2 separate regions of the Homo sapiens genome follow, and region 1 is linked to region 2. The links come from fine-mapping of genetic effects on gene expression. Tissue or cell type: whole blood. Region 2 holds a variant in brackets; the other region holds the start of a gene. All regions are shown on one strand. Distances are from middle to middle.

Evidence for each region. PIP is the estimated chance that this variant, and not a neighbour inherited with it, causes the effect.
Region 1: METTL9 starts here. The variant in region 2 is fine-mapped to the expression of METTL9 in whole blood (INTERVAL, PIP above 0.99).

The regions. Positions count from the first base shown.
Region 1 is chr16:21,595,638-21,603,814 of GRCh38, forward strand. It overlaps METTL9 (methyltransferase 9, His-X-His N1(pi)-histidine), which reads left to right and starts at 3,940. Exons shown (of 5, transcript NM_016025.5): 1 at 3,940-4,261. The coding sequence starts at 4,097. It overlaps LOC101927814 (a long non-coding RNA gene), which reads right to left and starts at 3,748. Exons shown (of 3, transcript NR_110930.1): 1 at 3,019-3,748; 2 at 1,997-2,122. RefSeq lists a silencer at 3,927-4,546 and an enhancer at 4,655-5,219.
Region 2 is chr16:21,658,677-21,666,853 of GRCh38, forward strand. OTOA (otoancorin) reads left to right here and starts at 5,292. Exons shown (of 29, transcript NM_144672.4): 1 at 5,292-5,556. The variant C/T (reference allele first, on the strand shown) is at 3,892.

The sequences.
Region 1 (8,177 bases), 63 kb before region 2:
AGTTTCACTGTGTTGCCCAGCCTGGAGTACAGTGGCATGATCTCAGCTCACTGCGGCCTCTGCCTCCTGGGTTCAAGCGATTCTCCTGTGTCAGCCTCCTGAGTAGCTGGGATTACAAGCATGAGCCATGGTGCCTGGCCTAGGCTACTAATTTTTTTTTTTTCAAAGCTGTCTGCAGTTTTGCCTTGACTTAGAATTCATCAACTGGAGCCCACAGTGATATCATTGCACAGGATTGAAGTTGTATCAACTAAATTCAGATAAAGATCTCCTACGTTAATTAATTAAACAAATTGTTGAGTACATTTGCTAATTTTGTTAGAGGTGCTCATTGCTTAATAACTACAGGACACATTCTATTGAATATACTGGGAAAAAGCTGTATCTTTCTCTGAAGGTATACAAAACAATATTAAGAAGCATAAAAAATATCTGTCCATAAAAACATGATTATGGCCAGGTGCAGTGGCTCACGCCTGTAATCCTAGCACTTTGGGAGGCTGCAGCAGGCGGATCACGAGGTCAGGAGTTTGAGACCAGCCTGGCCAACATGGTGAAACCCCATCTCTACTAAAAATACAAAAAATAGCCAGGCGTGGTGGCAGGTGCCTATAATCCCAGCTACTCAGGAGGCTGAGGCAGGAGAATTGCTTGAACCCGAGAGGCAGAGGTTGCAGCAAGCCGAGATCGTGCCACTGCACTCCAGCCTGGGCAACAGAGCAAGACTCCATCTCGGGAAAAAAAAAGTGATTATATGAGTTATTTTTATTTTTATTTTTTGATACAGGGTCACCCAAGCTGGAGTGCAGTGGCACAATCTCAGTTCACTGCAGCCTCAGCCTCCCAGGCTCAGGTGATCCTCCCACCTCAGCCTCCTGAGTAGATGGGTCTACAGGTGCATGTCACCACGCCTGTCTTATTTTTGTATTTTTTGTAGACACGGGGTTTCTCCATGTTGCCCAGGCTGGCCTTGAACTCCTGGGCTCAAGCCATCCACCTGCCTTGGCTTCCCAAAGTGCTGGGATTACAAGCATGAGCCACCCTGCCTGGTCTATATGAGTTCTTTTTAAATCATTATCTCTTCAAGGAGATAACAATCATCAATAGGTTTTGTACAGATCCAAACTCTCTGCTTGTGGATTCTCTTAACATGATACTTTGTAATTGAAAAGAGAATATGAAAATGCCAAGCTTTGTAACTTCAAAGAACAACAATAACAAAAAGCCTTTGCCTAGAGATCTAGATAGGAAAGTGATCCCGCCAAAATTTTGGGCCTGTGTACAGGGCTGTGACCCAAGTGGGACACCTGGGGTCAATGAGCAGAGTTCGGTGCAGAGGGTCATTTGTGTATCTTTTGAATATTACTAACTGCATCTCAAGATCATGTTAGAACGAGTATTGGCTATTTGGCTTTTTGTGTCATCTTGCCCCTTCCCGTCTCCATTATGGAGAATTGAGGTTTTAATATACGGTAGTGACATTCTAGTAGATGAAGGAAGGGGGCTGTCCCCAGTGGGCAATCTGAACTTCTGCTTCGTATATTTACTCTTGCTGTTTTCGTTTCTCCTCATTTGTAATTCAGGAGGCTCTCTGAGAAGAGACAGCAAAGCTTCTTAGATGGATCGAAAGACCACGAGCTGGGATACCAAGTTCTATGAAAAGGTCAGCTATTGAATTTACTCTGCTACCTTCAGGCAAATCATTTGATCATCGGATGCTCTGGTTTCTTCCTGTGCCTGCTAAATGTAAATAGCATGGGTTTGAGTGTTTGGTGGTTATTATAGAGTATTTTAAATGTATGAGTGATTTATTTTTCTAGGCCAGCTGCTCAGATATAAAACAAAATCTGCTCCTTTGAGCTGTTAGGCTTCGTGGCAGTCAACTGACCCCAAAATCCTTCTGACTACAGCAGCCATCTACTTGCTTGTTCATCTGATAACATTTTGCAGTCTCTCAGCTACAGCTATGTGGTCTCACTCTATAGCTGGGGCATACCTTTTTGTCTCCTTTGTCTTCAGAAAGGAAATATGCCATTTTATGCACTCCTGCTGCTTTCACCCCCACTTTAAAAAGATGAAGGCTTCCTTTTGTGACAGAGTTGCTTTGTCTGTTACACTGATCCTAAGAGACAGGAAGGAGAGGTGTCATAGTAAATAAACAGTTATTGGACTTGCTACCATAGTTCCTTTTTGATGACTTGGGCCAGGACCACTAGAGGTTTGAACTAGATTTAGTAAGGCTTGGGCTTTTCGGGGTTTTGGCAGGAAGCAGTCAGGGAGTATATTGGAAAGAGAGAACACAAAATACCGAACCCCACCCACCCTGTGCCTTTTTGTTTGTTGTTACAGCCTGTTACATTAGGCAACAAGATATCCTTGTTAGCCAAAGGTGCCAAGCTGAGATTCTTAAAAGCTAATGAAAGAGCTGTTGGGCCAGGTGCGGTGGCTCACGCCTGTAATCCCAGCACTTTGGGAGGCCGAGGCAGGCGGATCACGAGGTCAAGAGATGGAGACCATCCTGGCCAACATGGTGAAATCCCGTCTCTACGAAAAACACAAAAATTAGCTGGGCATGGTGGCGCGCACCCGTAGTCCCAGCTGCTCGGGAGGCTGAGGCAGAAGAATTGCTTGAACCCGGGAGGCGGAGTTTGAAGTGAGCCGAGATCGAGCCACTGCACTCCAGCCTGGAGACAGAGCGAGACTCCACTCCGTTTCAAAAAAAAAAAAAAAAAAAAGCTGTTGGGTAAGGAATGATTTTGTTCCCCATCTGTGGCTCACCACCCCACTGTTTCATAAATGAAAATCTCTGATGTGCAACGCTGAATTAACCAAAAGGCTTACTTCTTTTGTTTTGAACTTAGACACATTTACATTATTTCTGGTGCAGTTAAATTAAAAGCACTTTCCAAACAAACCTAGGAAAGTATTAAAGTTAGGGACTCCCACGAAATGTTACTCCTTAATTGTGGCTTGGATAATAGCAGGAAGAACTGCAGACAGGAACACAGTGTAACTAACCCTTCAGTTCTGAAATGTTGCTAGGTCTCCTCGTGTTATAAATGATCAAATAAATATCCGGGTTAAACACTGCTCCCAGAGCTGAGTTCACTCTTAAGAGTGTTGGGTCCAACTTCCCTGTGCTAATTCAAGGAAACAAGGCAGCCAAGGAGTCTAACTTGAGGTCTTCATTCTTGGGCAGGGCCATCAATACATCTAAAACATTACTTGTGGGTACCCCAGCTGCGGTAGCTTCCCCAAAAGGCAGAATTTTCACTCATTCTTTATAGAAACACGTAGCCAGCAACTTCTCAGGCTTGGGGAACGGGGCAGGCGGGTCGTGGTGGTGGGGAGAGTAGAGGAGGGAGTCTGGCAGGTCGGTTCTAAATGTAAACTGGAAACTACGCATCCGAGCGGGCAACCATCACTGGCACCATTCGTCTCCGGGAAGAACCTGTGTGTGTCAGGATGCACGAAAGGAATGACTCCCCTCTTTGCGCCCCCGGGGTTAACTGCACGACCCTGTCAAAGTCCCGCCGTGGAGTGGGATGAGGGTCGAGAGGTAACCCTGTCAAAGTCCCGCCGTGGAGTGGGATGAGGCGAGGAAAGACTGGAGGTCCTTCCAGCACCACCTTGGAGGGGCAGGGAGGCTGCAGTTACCGCCTTCGGAAGTGATCTCCTCAGCCCTCAAAAAAATTAAAACCACCTCCGCCATTTACTAGAGGCCAAGGCAGGGCCGGGACACGAGAACGCGCTCCGGGCGGATGCGCGCTCCCTTTGTCCCGCCTCCCAGCGGCCCGCTCATTGGACGGAGGGAGGGCGCCGGGGGAGAAAGCGACGCGGCCGCTCGTAAGTGCTCCGGATGGAAACTGGTGCAGGGGGCAGCGGCGTTCCGCGGCCGGAAGGGAAGGGGGAGGTGCCGAGGCTGCGCGCCGGCTGCTCCTCCCCACCCCCAGCCTTTGCCCTGAAGGGGGCTGGATGGGCAAGGCGGCCGCGATGGCTCGAGCTCGGGCGGTGGCGGCGGTGGCCGGAGGCGGCGGTGCCTCCTCCTCCTCGCCCCGGCGCCGGCGGTGATCCGAGCGAGCGGCCGCGGCCCCCGATGAGACTGCTGGCGGGCTGGCTGTGCCTGAGCCTGGCGTCCGTGTGGCTGGCGCGGAGGATGTGGACGCTGCGGAGCCCGCTCACCCGCTCCCTGTACGTGAACATGACTAGCGGCCCGGGTGGGCCGGCGGCGGCCGCGGGCGGCAGGAAGGAGAACCACCAGGTACGGGCTGGGGCCGGGGCCGGGGCGGGGGCGTGGCGGCCCGGCCTTCCCGCGCTGGGCCCGGCTATTGTGCGGGACGGCTCCGCGAGGGGGCGGCCCGGCCCTCGCCCCTCCGCCTCGGCCCCTTGGAAAGTTTTCCCCGCGCCTTCCCCGCCGGGCGTCGACTCCGCGAGCCCCGGGCACCCGGCCGCGGCCCCGCGAGCGCCTTTTGTTCCGCAGCGCAGGCGGGGCATGGCCTCCCGGGCCCGATCGTGAGCGGCCCGGAGCCCCGCATTGTTCCTGGGTCCCGGGCGGTGACTGCGGACGCCCGGCAGCGGGACTGGGGAACTTTGGGGCCAGAGCGTGGCTGGGGGCGCCCGCCTGGCACCGAGGCCTGAGACTGAAGAGACCCGGCCAGATCCATTACCCCGAGAAACAAAACGAAAAGCCAGCCCCTCTTGTTGTCTCGTTGAATCCCAGAACGTACAAAGGGTCGTGAAGAAATGTAACTGTACATCGCAAGCCATTGAACTCTCCAGGCTGATTGGGGTGACATTTCTCCCTAAGCACTTAAAAAATGGGTTTGACAGGTTGTCGCTCCCATCCTACGGAACCTTCCCCTCCTACCTAGCAGAGATCTCCTTTAAACTTGGATTTAGTCAGCCTGCTAGAAAGATTGTGTGTGATGAGGAGGAAGATTATGCAAGTTTTACAGGAAGGGTTTTTAAAACAGAACGGGACGGGAGGGAGTTTTAGTTATGCATCGTGAGCGTTACGCTGTGACCGGGTAGGTAGGCTTTTCATTAGCTCAGTCTTGCGCCACTTAAACGTGTACAGGTTAACTGTAGAATTAAGTGAGATATTTCGTATATGACCTTAACATAGTTTGCAGTTAATGTTAAATTCATTGAAAAGAGGCTTTTGAACTCTGCCAGAGTGTTGGCTTGTCATAGCTAGCATTTATAATACATTTTGCTTTTCCATAGAGTATTAATTATTCCCTATATCATCTTGTGTCTCATCATTTTCATATATTTCTCATTTTCCTACATTACTTTTTTATTATGCCAGGTGTTCAGAGAATTTACACCCAGGTTGATTTCATGTGTTTTAATGAGGGTAGAGAATTGTCTAAGAAGGAGATAGAGCAATTTAGAAAAGTAGCATTTAGTCTTTAGTAATATGTATATTGGGCTTTTTTCTATTGTTAAAGGAATCCTAAATTTCTGTAAATTTTTTTGAAAGCCTCCAGCCATTGCAGTTTGTTAGGTGCAATATCAGTATCATTGATCACTTGTATGATATGGTTAGGAATGTATGTAAACTTAAATTGCAAAACCACATTTATTCCTATGGATTATTTGCTTACACTAGTTCATTCTTATAGAGACAACTCAAAGGTACTGTACCGTTGACTGTACAGTTACCAGAATGTCACATATGGAACAATGGGGTAGACAATGAATTAGAAATGTCATTTTTAACATTTTTAAGCAGTTGATAGAAATAAGGTCCTGGATAGGAGAAAAAGCGATTTATCTCCATTGATGGGGGATTATGGTTGAGTCTCTTAGCTATTGGTATTTATAACACTTATCATGATTACCCCTACTGCAGCCACTTGGTAGGTTTTTAGTGCTCATAAAAGAATTGCACTTATTTTAAAATTGAAACACTATTTCAACACTGTGATGTGTATGGAGGCGGAATTGCAGCTGTAGACATAGCCTCAGAATATCTCCCAGCAGAGGATACTTTCTGACTGTACCTTTTAAAAGCTGAATCTGTTAAGTTCTAATGAAAACTAATACTGGTTTCAGATACGTTTATTTCAGATACCGTATTTATATTCTGTGTGTGTGTGTGTGTGTGTGTGTGTGTGTGTACCCCTTCACTAACAATTCAGCAGATAATTTCTTTAGGGTGAAGACTTAATATGGTGTTTTCTGAATATTTGGGGGATGGGTCAACTCTTTTCCTTAGAATAATGAATCCAGACATTATTTTGACATGAATACATTCATATTATGAAAATAATCGTGCATGAATAAAGATTAAAAGGAACAGAAGAAAGGTGTGTAGAAACCACCATGAGATAAAGTAGGAAACTGTCCTTTCTGCACTGTGGCTGGAGTTGATAATTTGTTTTCCACTTAATATTCCAGGATCCTGGGTTTGCCTTATAACTTCGTTGCTTGTGAAGTAACTGTAACTGTTTTTCCTCCTTCAGATTAATAGTTTTATACAAGGTCTTCTAAGTGTTCAGTTGGGTGTGTGAGTTCCATAGCCAGCCACATCTGGGCCTTTTGGAGTTGCATAAAAGTAGGGTTGTGGATTTGATTGAACCATACTTAGCAAAAGTGTTCCTTCTGGTTATTTTATTAAGGAATTATGATGGAGGATTCTGTGGTTAAAAGAGAGATCTTGGGCAATGTTTATTCGTTAAAAATGGCTATTTTGTTAGTATAGTTTGGAGAGGCAAGGCTCCTTTGGGCTAAAGCTGCTCTAAAACTGTAGTAGCAGTGCCATTTTAGTAACTTGGTTTGGTGTGCTAGCTTCAAAACTGGGATTATGTTTCACTTTGGGCAAGCAAGAAGCAGGGTTTCACTTAGAGCAGGGAAGTGGCTGGGAGGCCAGACTGGTCTCACAGACTTATTTTACAGCCTATGAAATAAGAATAGTTTTATATTTTTAAATGGTTACCAAGAAAATATCAAAATAACATTTTGTAATACATGAAGTTTCATTTATGGAATTCAAATTTATTTCAGTGTCTACAAATAAAGTGTTTTTTTTTTGAGATGGAGTCTCGCTTCGTCACCCAGGCTGGAGCGCAGTGGCCCAATTTTGGTTCACTGCAACCTCTGCCTCCCAGGTTCAAGCAATTCTGATGTCTCAGCCTCCCGAGTAGCTGGGATTACAGGTGAACACCACCACGCCCAGATAATTTTTGTAGTTTTCAGTAGAGATGGGGTTTCACTATGTTGGTTAGGCTGGTCTCAAACTCCTGACCTCAAGTGATCCTTCTTCCTGGGCCTCCCAAAGTGCTGGGATTACAGGCGTGAGGTACTACACCCAGCCCACAAATAAAGTTTTATTGAAAGAGAACTACCACATTCATTTACCTGTGGTCTATGAGCTCCCTGGCTACAATAGCAGCATATTTGCTACTGTATGGCCTGCAAGCCTAAAACATTTACTACGTGGCTTCTTACAGAATAAAGACTTTTTCCAAGAGAAATTCCCAGCTTCCTTAACAAACAGCTTTTTTTTTTTTTTGGAGACAGGGTCTCACTGTGTCACCCAGGCTGGAGTGTAGTGGCACAATCTCAGCTCACTGCATCCTCGACCTCCTGGGTTCAAGCGGTTCTCATGCCTCAGCCTCTCCATAGCTGGGATTACAGGCACGTGCCAGCACACCTGGTTAATTTTTGTAGTTTTAGTAGAGACAGGGCTTCACCATGTTGGCCAGGCTGGTCTTGAACTCCTGGCCTCAAGTGATCTTCCCACATCGGCTTCCCAAAGTGCTGGAATTACAGGAGTGAGCCACTGCAACCAGCCTCCAACAGCATATTCTTAATCACAGGTTGCAGGGTGGGTAGATTGACTCACTGGGAAGAAATAGAGGCAGGCAGTGAGAAACTAGTAGATATTGTCACTTTGCAATGTTGGCAGACTCAGAATTTAAAAAGACAACAACAAAAAACTTAGGATCTATTCTTTTTGATGCATTGCACCTAGTGCTTAAAGTTAATGCAACTATTATGGAGCTACTGAAACTTTGAAAGGACCCTTAGGCCCCAGGTTCTTGGTAATAATAGCGGTTCAGTAGCTTCTCAATTGATGGAGTGAAAAAATTGTTATAGAACTCGCTGAACCAAACCACAACGATTTCTCCGGGTGACATACTGCAAGGTTTTTTAAAAGCACAGATAAC
Region 2 (8,177 bases):
AGAGATGGGGTTTCGCCATGTTGGCCAGATTGGTCTCGAACTCCTGGCCTTGTGATCCGGCCTCCTAAAGTGCCAGGATTACAGGCGTGAGCCACCGCGCCCGGCCCATGACTGGCTTATTTCACTTAGCACAGTGCCCTCAGGGTTCACCGATGTAGAGGGTGTCAGAGTTTCCTTCCTCTCTTTTTTTTTTTTTTTTTTTTTTTTGAGACGGAGTCTCTTTCTGTCCCCCAGGCTGGAGTTCAGTGGTGTGATCTCGGCTCACTGCAGCCTCTGGCTGCTGGGTTCAAGCCATTCTCCTGCCTCAGCCTCCTGAGTAGCTGAGATTACAGGCGCCTGCCACCATGCTTGGCTAATTTTTGTATTTTTAGTAGAGACGGTTACACCATGTTGGCCAGGCTGGTCTCAAAACTCCTGACCTCAGGTGATCTACCTGCCTCGGCTTCCCAAAGTGCTGGGATTATAGGCGTGAGCCACCGCACCGGCCAGAATTTCCTTCCTTTTTAAGGCTGAATAATCTATTGTATGGATAGACCATAGTTTGCTTATCCATTAGTCTGTTGGTGAACTCTTGGATTGCTACTACCTTTTAGCTGTCTGAATAACCCTGCTGTGAACATGAGTATACAAGTATCTTGTGACCCTGCTTTTAATTCCTTTGGGTATATAACCAGAAGTGAAATTACTGGATCATGTGGTAATTCTATTTTTAATTATTTGAGGAACCACAATGCTGTTTTCTGCACCATTTAACATTTTTGCCAACAGTTCACAACCGTTCCAATGTCTCCACATCTTCACCAACATTATCTTGTTTTGTTTTGGGATGGAGTCTTGCTCTGTTGCCCAGGCTGGAGCGCAGGGCATGATCTCGGCTCACTGCAAACTCCATCTCTTGGGTTCAAGTGATTCTCCTGCCTCAGCCTCCCGAGTAGCTGGGATTACAGGCACCTACCATTACACTTGGCTAATTTTTATATTTTTGGTGGAGATGGGGTTTTGGGGTTTCGCCATGTTGGCCAGGCTGGTCTCGAACTCCTGACCTCAGGTGATCTGCCTGCCTTGGCCTCCCAAAGTGCTGGGATTACAGGTGTGAGCCACCATGTCCAGCCTGTTTTGTTTTTTTAGTAGTAGCCATCCTAATCGGTGTAAGGTGGTAGCTTGTGGTTTTGATTTGCATTTCCCTAATGACTAGTGCATCATTTGTTTTTATAATACAACTTGTATGGCATTTGGCTTCATTTACTAGTAAATTGTGCTTTGTAGCTTGCTATCTATATCAGTATCACTGAATTGGACTCAGTATTCAGTGATAACAAAATACTTCTTTTTCACTGTGAAATTGTATACTTTTGGAGAACAGGGAGAATATTATTACATAACCGAACTTAAGAATTCCCTCTGGATTTGGGTCAGTATGCTGTATTCACATGAATTAAATAATATGCTTTTGTTAGAAAGTCACTTTAAAATTACTTTCAATACATGTAAAATGAAAAGTAAGTATTTTTTCTCTCAAGTAAATGCCCATGTAAATTGGGATGTCTTATATACCTGTACTTCTTAAGTTCTGGAAAATAAGAACAGATAGAGTGCCCAAATGCTATTTTCTTATATCCTGTTTAGGATTCAACACAGAACGCTGGTTTTAAACGACTGTGAACTCTCAACACTTTTCCAAATGCTAGAGTTCAAGTGAATACATTGGCAATTCTTTTTTTTTTTTTTTTTTTTTTTGAGTTGGAGCCTTCCTCTGTCGCCCAGGCTGGAGTGCAGTGGTGCAATCTTGGCTCACTGCAACCTCCACCTCCCAGGTTCAAGTGATTCTCCTGCCTCAACCTCTCAAGTAGCTGGGATTATAGGCATGTGCCACTATGCCCTGCTAATTTTTCTATTTTTAGTAGAGATGGGGTTTTGCCATGTTGGTCAGGCTGGTCTCAGACTCTTGACCTCAGGTCATCCACCCGCCTCAGCCTCCCAAAGTGCTGGGATTATAGGTGTGAGCCACCTCGCCCAGCCTCCATCTTGTTTTTATTATTTATAGGGTGGCCATGACTGATCGTAAAGCCCTACTGGTTTTTCCATTATAAGTAACACGTTTGTATTAGTCCTTTCTCACACTGCTATAAAAACACACTTAAGACTGGGTAATTTATAAAGAAAAGAGGTTTAATTGGCTCATGGTTCTGCAGGCTGTATAGGCTTCTGCTTCTAGGGAGGCCTCAGGAAACTTACAATCATGGTGGAAAGTGAAGGGGAAGCCTGCATGTCTTACATGGTGGAAGGAGAACTAAGAGAGAACCAAGGAGAAGGTACCACACACTTTTAAACAACTGAGCACTCACTCACTATCACGAAAGCAGTATTGAGGGGGAAGTCAGCCCCATGATCCAATCACCTCCCACCAGACCCCTCCCCCAACACTGGGATTACAATTCCACACAAGATTTGGGTGGGGACACAAAGCCAAACCATATCAACGTTCATCGCAGAAAAAGTATAAAATGAAAATTAACTTTACTTACCCCATAAACTTGAGAGAACCACTACTGACAGTTTGGTTTATGCCTTCCAGACTTTTTTTTTTCTGTGCATGTATATATACACACATTTATAAATGTTTAAACATTAAAATATGTAAAAATGAAAAGGTCCTTTTATTGTTCTGAGATGAGTCATGTGAGACTCCTAGACACCTATATTCTAAATCAAAAATTGACAAAGGATGGAAGCCATTTCCTGTCATTTAAAGCTTGAGGTTAAGCTTTTTTTTTTTTTTTTTTTTTTTTGAGAAAGAGTCTCACTGTGTCACCCAGGCTGGAGTGGTGGCATGATCTTGGCTCACTGCAAGCTCTGCCTCCCGGGTTCATACCATTCTCCTGCCTCAGCCTTCTGAGTAGCTGGGACTACAGGCGCCCGTCACCACGCCTGGCTAATTTTTTGTATTTTTAGTAGAGACGGGGTTTCACTGTATTAGCCAGATGGTCTCGATCTCCTAACCTTGTGATCTGCCCGTCTCAGCCTCCCAAAGTGCTGGGATTGCAAGCATGAGCCACTGTGCCCGGCTGAGGTTAAGCTTTTTATTTAAAGGATTAAACAAAGACCCTGGGGATAAAAGGATGTTTTTGAGGATGCTGGACATTAGCATTATATAAATTACTATCAGATGGGCAGCAGAATGCTGCAATTGGTCATTTCTGAAGATAATGTTTTAATTGTGCCACTGACAAACTAATGTTAGCGTTGGGCATTTCAATGATTACTTTGAAATATTACGGGTATTAGATGTGTTTCGTTAAATGTGAAGGATTGCAAGGAAACTTCTTGAGTCCACAACTATTTTCATTAGGAAAGATGCAAAACAGTTATGCATAATCCTATCATGCAAAGCTAATATTTTAATGCATTGCCTACCAGATTTTTTTTAATTTTTTTTTTTGAGGCAGAGTCTCATTCTCTTGCCCAGGCTGGAGTGCAGTGGCATGATCTCAGCTCACTGCAGCCTCTGCCTCTCGGGTTCAAGGGATTCTCCTACCTTAGCCTCCTGAGTAGCTGGGATTACAGGACGTGCGCCACCATGCAAGCTCATTTTTGTATTTTTAGTAGAGATGGGGTTTTGCCCTGTTGGCCAGGCTGGTCTCAAACTCTTGACCTCAAGTGATCCACCCACCTCAGCCTCCCAAAGTGTTGGAATTAGAGGTCTGAGCCACCCCACCCAGCCTTGCCTTCTAGTTTTTTGTTTTGTTTTGCTTTGTTTTTGAGATGGAGTCTTGCTCTGTTGTCCAGGTGGGAGGGCAGTGGTGCCATCTCAGATCACTGCAACTGCCACCTCCCCAGCTCATGCAATTCTCCTGCCTCAGCCTCCCAAGTAACAGGGATTACAGGTGCCCA[C/T]GACCATGCCTGGCTAATTTTTGTAATTTTAGTAGAGACGAGGTTTCACCATGTTGGCCAGGCTGGTCTCAAACTCTTGACCTCAAGTGATCAGCCTGCCTTGGCCTCCCAAAGTGCTGGGATTACAGGTGTGAGGCTCCACACCCAGCCCCTAGCTTCTAGGTTCAATAAAAGTTCAAATACATCTATTTCTTACCATTGGCTTTTTTGTTTTGGATATAAAATTATTTCCTTGTGCTAATTATGTGGTCTTTGTTAAGAACAATTTTAATGACTGTGTAATCCACAGCGTTTATGTATCCATTTATTTAAGCATTTCATTATTGGTGGACATTTAGGATGAATTTTTTTCTACCACTCTGTGTATGTATACATCTATTATAGGTCATACTATTATTTTTATTATGGAAAATTCCAAGTACATAAAAAAGAAAGGTAATAATGAATCCTCCCCAACCAGCCTCAGCAATTATCAACACATGGCCCACCTTGTTTCATCCCTACTCCCACTACTCCTTGGTTCCACTATTGCCAAGCAAATCCCAGATGTCTCATTTCAGTTTTGTAAATATATAACTGTAAAAGATAACCACTCTGAAAAGATAGCCACATTACAATTATTCATTAAGAAACCCGGCAGGGTGCGATGGCTCACGCCTGTAATCCCAGCACTTTGGGAGGCCGAGGCCGGCGGATCACCTGAGGTCAGGAGTTTGAGACCAGCCTAGCCAACATGGAGAAACCCGGCCTCTGCTAAAAATACAAAAAAATAAGCGGGGCGTAGTGATGGGCGCTTGTAATCCTCTTTACTTGGGAGGCTGAAGCGGGAGAATCGCTTGAACCTGGGGGCGGAGGTTCCAGTGAGCCGAGATCGCGCCATTGCACTCCAGCCTGGGCGACAGAGCGAGACTGTCTCAAAAAAAAAGAAAAAAGAAATGAAAGAAACCCAGCCATTAAATATCCAGCGACCACATTGCTCCAATTTTCTTATAATTTTTTTTTTTTTTTTTTTTTTTTTGAGACGGAGTCTTGCTCTGTCGCCCAGGCTGGAGTGCAATGGCACGATCTCGGCTCACTGCAACCTCCCCCTCCCGGGTTCAAGCGATTCTCCTGCCTCAGCCTCCCAAGTAGTTGGGATTACAGGCGCCCGCCACCGCGCCTGGCTAATCTTTGTATTTTTAGTAGAGCCGGGGTTTCGCCCTGTTGGCGAGGCTAGTCTCGAACTCCTGGCCTCAAGTGATCCGCCCGCCTTGGCTTCCCAAAAGTGCTGGGATTACAGGCGTGAGCCACCGTGCCCGTCCTATAACTTCTTTTAACGGTTTGAATTCAGATCTAAATAAAGGTCCCATGTAGCGATTGGTGGATAGCTCTCTAGTGCTCCCCATCCTCGCTTCCTAGCTGCCGCCCCGAAGAGTGGCTGGGGAGCAGGCATTTGTGCGTCTTGCAAGCTTCGACAGATAGGAAGTCCCAGGCGGGGACTGTGACCCCCGCCGCTGCCCTGGCTGAGTTCCCACCTGGGCCGCTGCAGGGAGGAGGTCGCAGAGCTGCCGGCTGGCGCCGCCCCGCCGCTCTCCTGCCTGCCCGCTCCCCGCATGAGCCCCGCGGCCCCGCCCTGCGCCACCCGCCCGCCCGTGGGACTCAGTGCGGCCAAGCCGGGCTCCGCAGGTGAGGCGCGCGCGGGGGCCTGGGCGGAGGACTCACGGGGCAAAGCGCTGGGGGAGCGGGTGGGCGCCCACCGCTGGGCCTCCCTAGGGAAGGGGTGCAGGTGATGGATGGCGTGGGGGACAGACCGAGAGAAAGAGGGTGGGCAAAGTGTGGGTGCAGCGGCTTTAAGGGCTCCTGGGATTGGAGGGCACTTGGAGGGGGGGGACGATGAAACTTCGAGAAAAGGGATCCAAAACTACTTAGTAATATAATAACAGCGATGACAACTGTTGCAATAACTATCACAATGATTATTTGTTATAATAATATAGCAGCAGTAAAAACAATAGCATTAGTAATAATAGCTACGATTCATTGCATTCTTATATGTGCCAGTGCTGGGCTTAGTTCTTTATGTATTTTATGTATAAAGTAATGCCTACCTCATAACAGTTGTGTGGAAGAAATGGAAAAATGCAGGTAAAGGCCGGGGCTCACACCTGTAATCCCAGCACTTTGGGAGGCTGAGGCAGGAGAATCACTTGAGGCCAGGAGTTCGAGACCAGCCTGGCCAAAGTGGTGAAATTCCATCTCTACTAAAAATACAAATATTAGCCAGGTGTGGTGGCGGGCGCCTGTAATCTCAGCTACTCCGGAGGCTGAGGCAGGAGAATCGCATCAATCCGGCAGGTGGAGGTTGCAGTGAGCCGAGATCAGGCCACTGCCCTCCATTCTGGGCGACACAGGGAGACTCTGTCTCATGAATGAATAAATAAATAAATAAATAAATAAATAAATAAATAAACAAATAAAGTTGATAGTTTTTTGCCAGGGAGGTATGAGTGCCATGCCTACTATGCAGAGGAGGAAATGCAAGCCTATAGAGGTTAAGGAATTTGCCCAATAGCACACAGCTGGTTAAGGTTTGGTTCAGGTTAAAGCTGGGGTCTTATCCCTGGGGTGGCACCTGCCACCTGGAGTTTTAGGTTCAGGGCTGCTGAGCTGACACTGGAGAGCAAAGCCAGTGAGCGTTGGAATCATTTAGCTCTGGGTTTGCCACCTGGCTGTGCATGCATAGCTGTGTGACCTTGGGCAGGTCACTTGACCTCTCAGAACCCATTTGCTCATCTGTGAAGTAGAGATAATGGTAATGCTTGCCTCAAAGATTCTACAAGAATTAAGCGAGACAATGTATGTTAGAGAGGCGTGTACTTAGTTCTGTCTCATTAAATGACTGCTGGGATTAAGGTTACTAGGGAGCCCCACAGCCCTGCATCATAACCCCCTCCCTGCCATTCGCTTGCTGTGTGATCGTTCATGTGCACTGAACTCATCTGTGAAACTGAGTACGGTAACCCTTCAAGGCTGGTGGAAAGAGTAAATGGCAGGGAGGAGGGTTTGGTGTGATGCCCGGCTCATAGAGGATGCTCAGTGAGACCAGTTTCTTCCTTTCTTTCCTTCTTTTCCTCATTGAATCCAAAGCCATTTGTTCTCCGGAGACTTAGGAGAGAAGAAGGGGAATAGCTGTGCCTAAAATCTCACTATTAGTGGCAGGGCTGGGACAGGAACTCAAGTCTGGGCATCTCTAGTCCACCAAGCTCCCATCCCCTTGACTGCTTGAATTTTTTTTTTTTCCAGCCAGGGTTTTGCTCTGTCACCCAGGCTGGAATGTAGTGACATGTGATCGCGGCTCACTGTGGCCTCGACCTCCCAGGCTCAGGCAATTCTCCTGCCTCAACCTCCTGAGTAGCTAGGGCTACAAGCATGCACCCAGCTAATTTTTAAATTATTTGTAGAAATGGAGTCTCCCTATGTTGCCCAGGCTGGTTTTGAACTTCTGGACTCAAGTGATCCTCCCACCTTGGCCTCCCAAAGTGCTGGGGTTACAGGAGTGAGCCACAAAGCCTGGGCCTACTGGACTTCTACAACCACTGTGAGCTGGGCCATTCCAACACCAAGCATTTGTAATCAGGCTGGTATTCTATAAGCCAGACACATTTACCTATTTTGGATTAATAGTCATGAAATGGCATTTTTTTTTTTTTTTTTTGGTGGAAAATCTCCCAGCTAGTGTCAGTATGCCTAGAGTTATGTGTTCATGACCCAGAGCTTAAATGGAGCAGCCTTGCAGACAGTGAAACTCCATGTAATTGTGAATTAATGGTTTGTGTCTGGGCTGGGGTGTCCCAGCAGGAGGGGAACCTCCTAGCATCTTTGCAAATTTCACAGAAGATGAAGTGACTCTGATCCATGGGTTGACCAACTCCTCCGGGTTTGCCTGTGACTTTCTGGTTTCAAAATGGAAAGTTTTGAGTCCTGGGAAACCTTTTGGTCCCGGGCAACTGGGAAAGTTGATCACCTTGCACATCCAAACATTCATAGTTTCTCAGGAAATTGTCTTCATTTCAGGTTTGTGGTTATTGTTGCTGTTTTCGAGTAGTTTTCACCACAGGGATCCTTGCCTGACTGATTTCCTCCAGTCTGCAGTGGGGGAATCTTTCAGTGGGGAAGGGGTATGGCCCATAGAGAAAGCTATCGACCTCCAAATCATCATCGCCCTGCCCAGTCCTTTCAGTCCTTTTGACCAATCTGCTAAAAAAGTGACCCAAAGTGCCTTTAATGAAAACCAGATCCTGATGGGC